2 separate regions of the Homo sapiens genome follow, and region 1 is reported to be linked to region 2. The links are microRNA targets in miRTarBase. Many come from high-throughput screens and were not tested one by one. Region 2 holds a microRNA gene; the other region holds the end of a gene's coding sequence.
What was found. The annotated mature microRNA hsa-miR-502-3p reads AAUGCACCUGGGCAAGGAUUCA and lies in region 2 at 3,319-3,340, opposite strand. An mRNA with a match to its seed (bases 2 to 7 or 8) in the 3' UTR can be bound and repressed. Matches are read on the target gene's strand: a 7mer-m8 pairs with bases 2 to 8, a 7mer-A1 pairs with bases 2 to 7 and ends in A, and an 8mer does both.

Region 1 (7,305 bases), not on the chromosome of region 2:
GGTCTCCTGACTCCCCACAAGGTTTCTTGTCACTGAGGTCTGCTGTGGGTGATCAGAACTGATTATCGGGCACCTGCCCTGTTCTGAGCCTGGGTCAGCAGGATGGGAGCTTCTTAGAGGCCACATAGCCTTGAATGGTTGAGAGCTGAGCCAGGGTGTCGGCTGAGGTCTACTTGGCTTGCCTGCTTTGATCCTGAGAGCCACCCACCCCATCTCACAGTGAATAGGTTGGCAGGTGTGGGCTGGCGGGTGGACTACACCCTGAGCTCCAGCCTGCTGCAATCCGTGGAAGAGCCCATGGTGCACCTGCGGCTGGAGGTGGCAGCTGCCCCAGGGACCCCAGCCCAGCCTGTTGCCATGTCCCTCTCAGCAGACAAGTTCCAGGTCCTCCTGGCAGGTGAGGCTCAGCTATTCCTCGACGGGTGAGAGGCTCTCCCAGATCCGCCTGACTGCCTCCCACCTGCCCACCTCTTCCCTCTGCAGAACTGAAGCAGGCCCAGACCCTGATGAGCTCCCTGGGCTGAGGAGAAGGGTGTTCCAGGCCTGTGTGGAGCCGCCCTGCCCGTATGGAGTCACGCCCTCTGAACTGCTCTTCGGGAGGCAGCCCTGGTTCTAGGATGCTGAGGCCCTGGCCCGGACTCTGGCCTCCCAGATCCCCAGCTGCCTCACTTCTCTCTTGAGAACTTGGCTCAGGGCTCCTGAGGACCTTTCCCAGCATTACCTTCCCTTCCCTTGAAAGGCAATTGTTGGCTGTTTTCATAAGCAGGAAAAATAAACAGAAGTATAAAGGAATGTGTGCAGGGGGTTCTGTTTGGGTTCAGATCAAGGGTTTTTGTGAGAGAAACACAAGTGACATACAGGCCTTCTTGGTCCATCACTCATTTTCTTTTCTCAATTGCTGATTGAGGGAGGTCATAGGTAAGGCCAACTGAGGACCAAAATGCATCTGCTTGTCTGGTGAGAAGAAAATCAGGGTTCTAGCTCCCAGATCTGGGATGCTCTTGGCTCTGCTGTCTTTGCCCCCTGGCCATGTCCTCAGGCTAGCAGCACGTTGGTGGCCCCAAAGCCAAATGCCCCTTGTACAGAAAGGAGATTGCCCTTGTTTCACTGCCATCTTCTATTTATTTATTTATTTATTTAGAGACGGAGTTTCGCTCCTCTTGCCCAGGTTTCACTGCCATCTTGTTATTTATTTATTTTGAGATGGTACAGTGGCGTGATCTTGGCTCACCACAACCTCTGCCTCCTGGGTTCAAGCAATTCTTCTGCCTCAGCTGCCCGAGTAGGTGGGATTACAGGCATGCCCCACTACTCCCGGCTAATTTTGTTTTTTTTTTTTTTTTTCAGTAGAGATGAGGTTTCTCCATGTTGGTCAGGCTGGTCTCGAACTCCTGACCTCAGGTGATCCACCCACCTTGCCCTCCCAAAGTGCTGGGATTACAGGCGTAAGCCACTGCGCCCAGCCACTGCCATCATCTTTAGGAAGAGAGAAGTGACCATGCCTGAACCAGTCATTGGCAAGAGGAACGGTGTTATGGACTGAATGTTCATGTTCCTCCAGAATTCATATGCTGAAGCCTCTGTCCACACATGCACACCAGATGAGGGCCATGTGCGCACACGAGGTGGCTGTCTACAAGGCCAGAAAGAGGGCTGTCAACAGGAACTGCGTCTGCTGGCACCTTGATCTTGAACTTCCCAGCCTCCAGAACTGTGAGAAAGAAATCTCTATGGTGTAAGCCACTAGTCTGTGGCATTGTTATAGCAGCTCGAGAAGACTAAGGCAGATGGGCTTCCAGGACTGGCCCAGACCAGCCAGGGCTCCTTGTAGAAAAGGCTGATGCCAGGGTTGGCACATGGAGGGTACAAGGAGGACTCGCCTGGAGTATCTTAAGGAACCTATCGAAGAATAATGGCTTGTTCCACTGGCCAAAGATGGGACAATTTGAACATCAAAAGAGATACTTACTGACTCCACTCCTGACTTCTGCTTCTGAAAAAATGAAGTAGGTGTTTTCCCTATTCCTCCCACTAAGTACAGTTAACAACCCTGGATGTTACATATAAAACAAACAAAAAGACTCCGAGCGATGGAGAGAAGGCACCCTAGCCTGGCTGGGATCCTCAGGACCTGAGGCTCCACAGAGAGAAATTCCTGGAATCTGGACCCCATGGCCCAGTCAGGTTACACAAAACTGATCATCACAGATCTGTAGAACTATACAAAAGTGCTAACATTCATGATTAGGGTCTCAGAAGGTAAGGAGGAAGAGAGTGGAATGGAAAAAGTATTCAAAAAAATAATCACTAAAGGCCAGGTGCAGTGGCCCATGCCTGTAATCCCAGCACTTTGGGAGGTGGGACAATTGCTTTAGACCTTGCAACTGGCCTGAGCAACACAGGGAGACTCAGTTTCTCCAAAAAAATAAAAAATTAGCCGATCATGGTGGTGCGTGCTTATAGTCTCAGCTACTCAGAAGGCTGAGGCAGGAGGATCAATCGCTTGAGCCCAGGGGTTTGAGGCTGCAGTGAGCTGTGATCATACCTCTGCACTCCAGCCTGGATAACAGAGCTGAGACCCTGTCTCAAAAAAAAAAAAAAAAAAAAAAAAAAAATGTATATATACACACATTGGAATATTTTTCAGCCCTTAAAAAGCAGAAGGTTCTGTCATTTGTGACTTGGATGAACCTAGACGACATGATGCTAAGTGAAATAAGCCAGGCACAGAGAGACAAATACCTCGTCACCTCACTTATGCCTGGAGTTGAAAAAAGGGCCTGGGGCAGTGGCTCACGCCTGTAATCCCAGCACTTTGGGAAGCCAAGGTGGGAGGATCACTTAAGCCCAGGAGTTCGAGACCAGGCTGGGCAACATGGCAAACCTGTCTCTACAAAAAGTAAAAAAATTAGCCGGGTGCAGTGGCACATGCCTGTGGTTCCAGCACTTGGGAGGTTGAGGTGGGAGGATTGCTTGAGCCAGGGCGGTCAAGGCTGCAGTGAACCATGATAGTGCCCCTGCACTCCAGCCTGGGTGACAGTGAGACCCTGTCTCAAAAAAAAAAAGTTAAATTCATAGAAGTCGACAGTAGAATGGTGGTTAGCAGAGGCTGGAGGAGAGAGAGGGTGGGTTGTGGGGAAAAGGGGAGACACCGGTCAAAAGGTACAAAGTTCCAGTTAGGAGGAGTACATTCTGGTGATTTATTGCCCAGCGTGGTGACCAGTTAATAATGATGTATACTTCAAAATAGCTAAAAGAGGGTTTTAAATGTTCTCATCACAAAGAAATAAATATTTGAGGTAATGGATATCCTAATTAGCCTGATTTGATCTTTTTTTGTGTTTTTTGTTTTCTTGAGACAGAGTCTCACTCTGTTGCCTAGGCTGGAGTGCAGTGGCGTGATCTTGGCTCACTGCAACCTCCGCCTCCCGAGTTCAAGTGATTCTCCTGCCTCAGCCTCTGTAGTAGCTGGGACTACAGGCATGCACCACCACCCCTGGCTAATTTTTTGTATTTTTTGTAGAGACTGGGTTTCACTATGTTGGCCAGGCTGGTTTTAAACTTCTGACCTCAGGTGATCCGTCTGCCTCGGCCTCCCACAGTGCTGGGATTACAGGCATGAGCCACCGTGCCCAGCCGATTTGATCATTCCACAATATATGCATGTAACAAAACATCACACTGTACTCCATAAATTTATACAATTATTATTTGTCAATTAAAAATAAAACTATAGATAAGTCAAACTGGTATTCTAAAAAATGCTCCACCAGCCACAGTTGGGCAAGAAGAAGCAAAAATGAAAACTGGGAATAAACAAAGTGATAAAAAAATCACAAGGAGACTATCCTTGGCAACATGGCAAAACCCCATCTCTACAAAAAAATACAAAAATTAGGTGTGGTGGTATGCACCATTGTCCCAGCTACTCAGGAGGCTGACGTTGGAGGATCACCTGAGCTCAGGAGTTCGAGGTTGCAGTGAACCATGATCATACCACTGCACTCCAGCCTTGAGTGACAGAGTGAGATCCTGTCTCAAAAAAAATAAAAAAGAGGTTATCCTGTCTTTTTAGTCAGGATAACCAAATAGCCCTGGTCAATGAGGTAAAGCTATACTTGACAGATGGATTCTATCAAATATATTAAGAATGACAATTAGAAAATCACTTTGAGGCTGGACACGGTGGCTCACGCCTGTAATCCCAATACTCTGGGAGGCCAAGGCAGGTGGATCGCTTGAGGTCAGGAGTTTGAGACTAGTCTTGGCAACGTGGTAAAACCCTGTCTCTACTAAAAATACAAAAAATTAGGCATGGTGGCCCCCACCTGTAATCCCAGCTACTGGGAGGTCGAGGCTGCAGTGAGCCGAGATTGCACCATCGTTCTCTAGCCTGGGCAACAGAGTGAGACCTGTCTCAAAAACAACAATAAAAACCTAAAACTTTATTTTCTTTTGAGACAGGATCTCAAAGCGAACTTTCGTATTTTTAGTAAAGACGGGGTTTCACCATGTTGGCCAGGCTGGTCTTGAACTCCTGGCCTCAAGTGATTCACTCCCCCCTCGGCCTCCCATAGTGTTGGGATTTCAGGCATCAGCCACTGCGCCTGGCCAAAAACCCAAAACTTTATATTCATTGAATAGCAACTACCCATTTCCTCCTTCCCGGCAGCTCCTGGCAACCACCATTCTACTTGCTGCTTCTGTGTGTTTAACTGTTTAGGTACCTGATATAAGTGGAACCATGAAGTATTTGTCTTTCTGGGGTTTTTTTGCTTGTTTGTTTTATGAGACAGAGTCTCGCTCTGTTGCCAGGCTGGAGTGCAGTGGCACGATCTCAGCTCACTGCAACCTCTGCCTCCTGGGTGCAAGCAATTCTCCTGCCTCAGCCTCCCAAGTAGCTGGGACTACAGGTGCCCGCCACCACACCTGGATAATTTTTGTATTTTTATTAGAGACGGGGTTTCACCATGTTGGCCAGGATGATCTCGATCTCCTGACCTCGTGATCCACCCGCCTTGGCCTCCCAAAGTGTCGGGATTATAAGCGTGAGCCACTGTGTCCAGCCTAAGTATTTGTCCTTCTGTGACCAACTTATTTAGTGCAATGTCTTCGAGGTTACCCATGTTGTTGCATGTGGCAGTATTTCCTTTTTTTAAAGGCTGAATAATATTCCATCATATACCACATTTTTTTTAGGGGGGCAGGGATGGGGATAAGGTTTCACTCTGTCATCCAGGCTAGAGTGCAGCAGCATGATCACAGTTCACTGTAGCCTCTGACTCCCAGGCTCAAGCAGTCCTCCAACCACAGCCTCTGGAGTAGCTGGGACTACAGATGCATACCACTATGCTAATTCTTTTCTTATATAGAGATGGAATCTCCCTATGTTGACCAGGCTGGTCTTGAACTCGTGGGCTCAAGCAGTCCTCCTGTCTTGGCCTCCCAAAGGGCTGAGATTACATGCATGAGCCACCATGCCCAGCCTATTATATATCACATTTTAAAAAATCCATGTATCGGTTGGTTGTTTCCACATCTTGGGAATAATGCTTCAATGTGTGTTATCTCTTCATTGGGGTGGCAGTTACATGACTATGTGTTTGTCAAATATTGCAGTCTGAAAGGGGTAAATTTTACTATATGTAAATTATACCTTTATTTAAACAAGAGAACAACAAAGAAATTACTCCATAGATTATTTGGTGTTCACAAGGTATGAACCATATGTTTTCTAATGCAGAGGTCTGGCTGCCACAGCCCCTGTCTTGATCAGTTTCAGCTCCCAATAAAGTGGGACAATGAGATATTGGGTGCCTCCTGATATGATGCAATTCAAAGTACAGAGCAGTGGCCAGGCGTAGTGGCTTATCCCTGTAATCCCAGCACTTTGGGAGGCCGAGGCAGGCAGATCACCTGAGGTCAGGAGTTTGAGACCAGCCTGGCCAACATGGTGAAACCCCGTCTCTACTAAAAATACAAAAATCAGCTGGGAGTGGTGGCATATGCCTGTAGTCTCAGCTACTCAGGAGGCTGAGGCAAGAGAATCACTTGAACCTGGGAGGCAGAGGTTGCAGTGAGCCAAGATCGTGCCACTGCACTCCAGTCTGGGTGACAGAGCAAGACTCCATCTCAAATAAAACAAAACAAAACAAAAAACAACGAAGTACAGAGCAGCACCTAGGAAGTATCCCTGAATATTTATATAATCAAGCCTTTAGATCTAATTCCCAGCATGCAGGATGAACCACAGATAGAGGACCAATCTCTGTGACAATATCAGTGACACCCTGAGGATACATTCAGACAAATTGAGAATGTGATGCAGCATCTATCTCAAACAACAACTGGCTGAGACTCTTCAGAAAGGTATCATGAAGATAAAAGAAGGGGATGAAGTGGGTGGGAGAGGGAAGGTGGTTTCATCTAGATTTAAAATTATTAAAAAGATATAATCCAGCCAGGCGCGGTGGCTCACGCCTGTAATCCCAACACTTTGGGACCCCGAGGTCGGGGGATGGCTTGAGCCCAGGAGTTTGAGGCTGGCCCAGGCAACATAGTGAGACCACATCCTTACAAAACATGAATTAGCCAGGCGTGGTGGTGTGTGCCTGTAGTCCCAGCTACTTGGGAGGCTGAGGCTGAGGATCACTTGAGCCCGGGAGGTCGGAGGCTGCAATGACCCATGATTGTAGCCTGGGGGACAGAGTGAGACCCTGTCTATATGTGTATATATATATATATTTGGGACAATTGGGGAAATCTGGATGTGGACTAGCTATTAGATGATATTAAGAAGTTACTGTTGGCTGGGCATGGTGGCTCACTTCTGTAATCCCAGCACTTTGGGAGGCCGAGGCGGGCAGATTACTTGAGGTCAGGAGTTCAAGACCAGCCTGGCCAACAAGGCGAAACCTCATCTCTACTAAAAATATGAAAATTAGCCAGGCATGTGGCACACGCCTGTAATCCCAGTTACTCGGGAGGCTGAGGCAGGAGAATCACTTGAACCCGGGAAGTGGAGGCTGCAGTGAGCCGAGATTTCACCACCGCACTCCAGCCTGGGTGACACAGTGAGACCCTGTCTCAAAAAAAGAAGTTACTGTTAACTAATTTCTAATAACTTAGATATTATTAGATATTGTCAACTAATATCAAGTTGTTAATTCTATTCATTTATTATGGCAGAAGTATTTTAAAGTAAATTAGACAAATCATGACATTTCATACCCAATACTTTAACATGCATCTCTAAAAACCAATTTCTTACAAAGCCACATAATTTTATTACGCCTAATAAGGAGA
Region 2 (7,353 bases):
ATTCTAAAGTTTAGCCAGAGAGACAAATGACCCAGAATAGCCAACACAATTTTGAAAGAGAAGAACAAACCTGGAAGACTGACACTATCCAACTTCAAGGCTTACTATAAAGCTACAATAATCAAGACAGTGTAATAATGGCATAAGAATATAGATCAATAGAACAGAACAAATCCAGAAATATACCCACAAAAATATAGTCAATGGATCTTTGACAAATGAGCAAAGGCAATACAATGACACAAATATATTCTTTTCAATAAATGGTACTGAAACAACTGGACATGAACATGCAAAAAAAAAAATGAATCTAGAGGTAGGTCTTCAACTTTCACAAAAATTAACTCAAAATAGATGACTGACCTAAATGTAAAACACAGAACTATAAAACTCCTAGAAAATAATGTAGGCTAAAATCTAAGTGATCTTAGGTTTGGTGGTGACCTTTTAGATACAACACCAAAAGCATGATCCATGAAAGAAAAAATTGATAGACTGGACTTCATTATAATTAAAAACTTCTGCTCTGCAAAAGCCACTGTTAATTGAATGTAAAAGCAAATCACACATGGGAAAAATATTTGCAAAAGACATATCTTAGAAAGGGATTGTATCTAAAATAAGTAAGAAACTCTTTAAGCTCAAGGATAAGAAAACATTCCTATTAGAATGCCTAAAATCCAAAACACTAACAAAACCAAATGTTGATGAGGATATGGAGTAACAGGAACTCTCGTTCACTGCTGATGGAAATGTAAAATGGTACAGCCACTTTGGAGGACAGTTTGGTGGTTTCTTACAAAATTAAACATAGTCTTACCATATGATCCAGCAACACTTCCTGGTATTTTACTTAAGTGAGTTGAGAACTTATGTCCATACAAGATCCTGCACACAAACGTTTATAGCAGCTTTATTCATAATTGCCAAAATGTAGAAGGAACCAAGCTGCCCTTCAGTGGGTGAGGATAAATAAACTTTGTGCCTCCAGACAATGGAATACTATGCAGTGATAAAAAGAAATAAGCTGGTTACTATATGGGATAAATGGGGAAAAAAATGAAAGAAAAGAAATGAGCTATCAAGTCATGAAAAGATATGAGGAGCCTTAAATGCATAGTGCTAAGTAAAATAAGCCATTCTGAAAAGGCTGCATAATGTATGATTCTAACTATATGACATTCTGGAAAAGGCTAAACTATGGAGACAGAAAAATGATCAGCGGTTGCCAGGGGTTTAGGGTGGGGGAGGGGGGATAAATAGGCAGAACTCAGAGGAATTTTAGGGCAGTGAAACTATTCTGTATGATACTATAATGGTCATGCATGTCATTATACACTTGTCAAAACCCATAGAGTATATAACACAAAGAGGGAACTCTAATGTAAACTATGGTTTACATTAATAATTATATTTAAACTATTATTTAATAATAGTTATAATACATTATAATTATACTATTATTTAATAATAATGTCTCAACATTAGCCCATCAATTTTAACAAGTGTACAACACTCATGCAAGATGTTAATAGCGGAAACTGGGGTGTCTCGAGAATATATAACAACTCTATACTTTCCATTCAATCTTTTTGTAAACCTAAAACTGCTCAAAAAAGTCTATGAATTTTTAAAATATGAAAAGAAACTAAAAGAGCCATTTACACATAAGGAAATTTTGATGCTAAAAATCATCCTGTGTAACACAGAAATCCCCCTAGTAATGACAGAATAGAAATTTTAAGTCATTTAAACCAATGGTTCTCAAACTTCAGTGTGCATCAGAATCACCTGGAGGGCTGTTAAAACACAGATTGCTGGGCCCCACCCCTGACTTTCTGATTACCTAGGTCTGAGGTGAGGCCTGAGAGTTTATTTCTAACAAGTTCCTGGAGGATGCTGATGCTGCTAGTCTTGGGCATCAAGAGAGGTATAAAGTCTGATAAAATAAGACTAAGGCTGAGCAGTAACCAAAATGAGATTTTAGAGTATACAAAAGATAAGGAGCACATATTAAATAACCTGAATCTTTACTGCAGGTTAGATTGGGAGAATCTGGGAGAGAAGAAGGACCAAGGATCAGAATCTATAAGTCCCAAATGTTTAAGAACTTGAGGACTGAAATGGAGTGTGTGTCTCTTTCTGTCTCTGTCACCACTATTTATAATACTGTATTGCTACGCTGACCTGAACACTATAAATTTGCAATGGGCAATGAGCAAAAATGATAAGATGGGGAGGAATGAATAGATCAGCTTAGCTAAGAAGAGAGTAACAACTGAAGAATACTGCTGAGGTCACAGTAGAAAGCACTCAGGCTCAGGCGCTAAGGATGGGAGGAGGGGAGTGAATCAGATCATGGGCACCTGTACTCCCTAGGTGAGAGAGAGAGAGAGATGGAGAGACGGACAGAGAGAGCGATAGACTGAAACAGAGACATGTATAGTCCATCTCTATTTGACTAAAGTAAGGTAATATAAAGATATAGGCTGTTCTCATTTCCATATTGTGTGGGGTGCATACAAGATCAGCAATAAGAAGGGTCCCTTGCTCTTCACCCCCTCTAATTCAAGAAGAGTCTGTAATAGACATCTAAAGGCAGCTCACAGTTCTACTCAGGATGTCCTGGAAGATAAAGGGCAGCTTATAAGCTCAAACTCCTATACATTCTGTAAGTGTAAATCTTCATGAATGTGTGCATCTCCCTGTCCTCAGAGGGGACAGAGTGGGGGGAATAGGAAGACTCTCTCTTTGGCCCCCATCATTTGTGCCCGTCTGAATTTTTCTTCTAAAGCTGCCCATCAGAGAGCACATCCAGTGATTTTGACTCTCGTTTGTCACTGCATCCTTAACACTAAAAAGAGTATCTGTCACACTCTAGAAACTCAAGATATAGGAAGGCAAGAAAAGAGACATATATGCACTCAGTCCATATATATACATATAGGTAGGCAAGGCTCCATCTCATTGAATCCTTGGCTTAATACTTGAGACAGCACTCACATCTAGGTTGGAAGGAAGTGAGGGAGCAAATCAGAAGGCTCTGGTTCCCGCCCACCACCCTGTGTGTGGACAGCAGGTGGGGAACACAGAGAAAGCTCACTGTCTCACTCTGGATACCTGCATACATGGACATTATTTAATAAGGACATTTATTCTAATACACAGACAAGCCCACCAGAGCACCTGAAGTCCCTAACTATTCTGTTCTGTGCTTCCCCAACACACACCCATCACTCAAAAACTATGACAGGGGAGGGTGGGAGGGGTGATGTCTAGGCTCTCTGTCCTTCTTGGTACAGTTGAGCTCCCCCTCTCTGAATCCTTGCCCAGGTGCATTGCATTGAGCCAGCACTAGCACCCAGATAGCAAGGATTAGAGAGGGGGAGCAGGGCAGAAGGCTTGGGCACCTGCCGTGCTCGAAGCAGAGAAGGTTCTCTGTTACACAGCTCTGTGTGAGAACAGGAATGAGAGTCTTGCATTGTGTATATGTTGGGAGAGGGTGTCAATAAGAAGTCCCATGTTGTGGCCCACACTAACTCAGCACGTGCAGGAATATTAGGTGACAAAAAGTCAAGTCTCCTACACATATTCTTTGAGGCAAGAACCAAGTCCATCTTGTGTGATACCATATGCCCACTGCCCTGGCAGCACAGCGTTAGCATGTACTAAGTGCTCAATACTTGTGAAAGGGAGGTAGAGGGGAAGGAGAGGGAGGAGGAAGTGTGACTCACAGGCACTTTGTCTGTCTATGGGCAGAAAAAGGCCCCTCTGAGAGTCCTGGAATAGGTGCTGCACTGAGACAGCATGCACATTTAGGTGGCAAGGATACAAGGGGAAGCAGAGCAGCAGGCTCAGGATGTGCACACCACATATATTTGCACAGGTACCCATGTCTGTGGGAGGGAATAAAGAAAAGCCTGATTTCTGGCACCCTGAGCCCATGTATTCACAGGAAGTTGGATGACATGAGGATGCTTATTCTCCATGAGCCTGCTAGACAGTAAGGTCGGCATCTCTGACAGGTTAGTTTACTGTGGCATTCCCAAACAGCAGGAATTCAGTAAATTTGTTAAAGGGATGAATAAATGAATGGACCAAAAACATGCACACACAAATGACTGACTGAAAGAATGAACAAAGGAAAGAGAAGGGATGGACAGGCTCTGTCCTACACATAGGCAAGGCTCACAAGCTGGTATCCTTGCACAAGCCCATTGCACTGCTAAGACAGCACTTGTGCCTAGGCTGCAAGGCTAGGAGAGGGCAAGCAAAAATCAAAGTCCAGGCACCTGCACACCAGGCATGCATCTGAGTGTGTGTGGCAAGGAAACTTGCAGGCAAGTTTAGATAATAAGGCTCCTTCCTTTCAGCTTTGTACAGAAATGTTTCTACACTTACACATGTGTGTGTGCACATGCATGCACAATGTGAGCATGTGTATTCATAAGAGAATGAGAAGGCTCAATTCCTGACACACCTGTGTCTGTTGCCTAGGCCTGGGGAAGTCTAGGCACCTAATACCTCCACTAGATAGGAAGTCCCGGAGAGAGACACTGTCCATTATTTAGCAGGGTACTCCCAGCACAGCTCATGGCACATCAAAAGTGCGCAATAAACACGGGCTACTTGGATTGTTCAGCAGAAGATTCACGATGACAAGGCTCACCCTCCTGTAATCCATGCACACAGGAGGTGTTTTGAGAATTCACAACTCCGATATGCAATGGGTATGGGAGAAGGAGCAGTTCATTCTTCTGCACATGGGAGGGGGGTGGGGGAGGAGAGAGAAAGAAAGACAGAAAGAGAGAAAGAGAGAGAGAGGAGAGAGATTGATTGATTGATTGAGAGAGAGACAGATTGAGATTAAAGTGTCAGGTGCACGCCTGGAGAAGCAGTGCCAAGTCTATTCCCTAATAAAGTACTTGTTGTGTGTTCACTTAGCCTCATGTGCTCACTGAATGTGTGGTTATGGAGGAGGTGGAGACAGTAATGAAATGATGGCTTCCCTGCCACAGTCTGCATGGACTCGGCATTGGGAACGTACATGAGCAATGCAGGAGCTCATTCTCTTCCACCCTTCACCTGACTAGCTTATCACTGCCCCTAGCTAGCACTTATACTAAATCAGTGATTCTCAAACTTAAGTGAGCATCAGAATCAGTTGAGAGCCTTGGTAAAGTACAGATTTCCATGGTTTATGGTGTAGTAGGTCAGGGATGAGCCCAAGAATTGGCATTTTGAACAAGCTCCTAGGTGATACAGATGCTGCTGGCCCAGGGACCACACTGAGAACCACTGCTCTATACATAACTTAAAGAAATGAAATAATGGGACATAGAGGGGTGATGCAAAGACTCTACACTTTTAAACATGGATGAGATTCCCTCTCTGAATTTTTGTACAAGGCAATGGACTGGAATAGCATTTGTACCCAACTACGAAGAATGAAAGAGAGGGACAACCTGAATAGAAGGCTCGAGCATCTTCAAATCCATTGTGTTTGTGTGTATGTACAAAAGAAACAGCACTCTCTGGCTCACAGGTGATTTTCCTATGACCATACAAAGGTGAAGTGTCTTTTCTTCATATGCATGTGTGAGATGACTGACAAGTAGGGCCACTTTCCTTCAAGCTCTGGTGGCATAAGCAGCAAGTAGAAAGCCTATTGCCTTGCACACCAGACATGAGTGAGAAGATGCTGCTAATGACACTCATTATCCTATGCACACTGTGGCTGCAGCTCTGTGTAAGGGGAGACACACCTTTTGTAGTTCTCTAGCTGAGCACTGTTGGGGGGTTGGAGAGGGGATGATGGGAAGACTCACTCTCTGCTACATACGTATGCATGAACAATGTGGGCAACGGAAGTTCCTTCTCTTAAACATGCTCACTAGGCATGTGAGTATGAGTTCTGTGTCTTTCTTGACCACCCTGTCTCTCCATGTCTGGTGCATGACAGGAGCGCCACCCCTGCTTGTTAAAGGTGGGAATGAATGAAGGATGGGGATTATAAACAGGTGTTCTTCGCTCTATGCAGAAAAGGCTCAGCCGTGGAATGCTTGCCTGGGTGCACCGCATTGACACAGCACTTGCATCCAGGTACCAGGATTCAAGAGGGGGAACAGGACTGAAGGCCCAAGCAGCCATACAGAGTATGTGTGTGTGCACGTGTGCGTGTGTGCACATGTGCTCACATGGGTTTACAGGGAAGGCTCACCGCATATAGTGTGTTCATCTGTGACTGTACAGAAAAGTAATGAAAGGATCTCTCCTATACAGAGCAGCAAGAAGGAAAGTAGCAGTAAGAAGACTTCCCTCATTTAATCCCCATCTATAAGGGAGTTAAGGAAGCTCACTGGCTTGCACGCTGAGAATGGGAGAGAGGAGAGCACAACAGGCTCCATCTCCTACCCTTTCAGTAGGTGGGGTTCTCTGCATGCAGGGCCATGTCTCTGAGTGTGTCTGGTGTACAAGGATTGGGGACATTTGAGAATTTCACTTGAGCAGAACCTGCACATGCTTGTGCATGCAGACTGGGTAACAAGGAACATATAGATCTACTTCATTCTTTTGAACAGTGGCCTATTCATCCACAACATTTATGTATAGTGTGTTTATGAGTCCCTACCAGAATGTAGGGTAGCAACCTGTCCATTTTGATCCCTGCTATATCCTTGGTGATGAACATAATACCTGCTGTCTAATAGACACTTGAGTATCTGTGGAAGGAAGAGGAGGGAGAGTTGATGTGCAAAAGCTCTGTCCTTTTAAGTGTAGACAAGGCTTCTTCCCTTGGAATTCTTGAAAAGGGACAGTGAGTCAAGGCAGTACTGGCACACAGGCTGAAAGAATGTGAGTGATGCACCAGGTCAGAGGGACCACTCTGTGAGGACATGTCTCTGTGGATGTAACCAAGTCAGGCCCTTTCTCTTGCACACAGCGTATTTATGTGTGATTGTACTGAGGTTTAGTAGATTCTCCAACATGTATCTGTACCCCACCCACCCTGTACCCCACCCACCCTCAGGACATGCAGATATAATGAATGAGAAGGAGTCCATTCTCCTCCCTGAACTGTACACTCCATGAAGGTAGGGAACCAGATATGGCTCATTCTCTTGTGGGCCAACTGCCCAGGACAGCACCTGCAATAGAGTAGGTAGGTACTCAACAAATAGTCATAGAAAGGATGGAAGGAGGAGGTAGAAGTGCTCTGTCCTATGCGAAGATGTCACTCCCCCTTGCAGAATCCTTGCCTGGGTGCACTGCATTCAGAAAGCACTCTCACCCAGGTAGCAAGGATTAGAGAGGGGGAACCAGGACAGGAGATTCCAGTACCTGTACACCTCA

Region 1: miRTarBase lists COMMD4 as a target of hsa-miR-502-3p. The part of its 3' UTR that is shown has no 7-base or 8-base seed match.

What each region holds. Positions count from the first base shown.
Region 1 is chr15:75,339,482-75,346,786 of GRCh38, forward strand. COMMD4 (COMM domain containing 4) reads left to right here. Exons shown (of 8, transcript NM_017828.5): 7 at 221-397; 8 at 484-792. The coding sequence ends at 524. Among named protein-coding and RNA genes, the nearest start is that of NEIL1, 3.9 kb to the right of the region's middle.
Region 2 is chrX:50,010,636-50,017,988 of GRCh38, reverse strand. It overlaps MIR502 (microRNA 502), which reads right to left and starts at 3,391; the gene lies at 3,306-3,391. The region is part of intron 3 of CLCN5 (chloride voltage-gated channel 5); the gene reads right to left. It overlaps MIR660 (microRNA 660), which reads right to left and starts at 4,748; the gene lies at 4,652-4,748. MIR500B (microRNA 500b) reads right to left here and starts at 7,317; the gene lies at 7,239-7,317.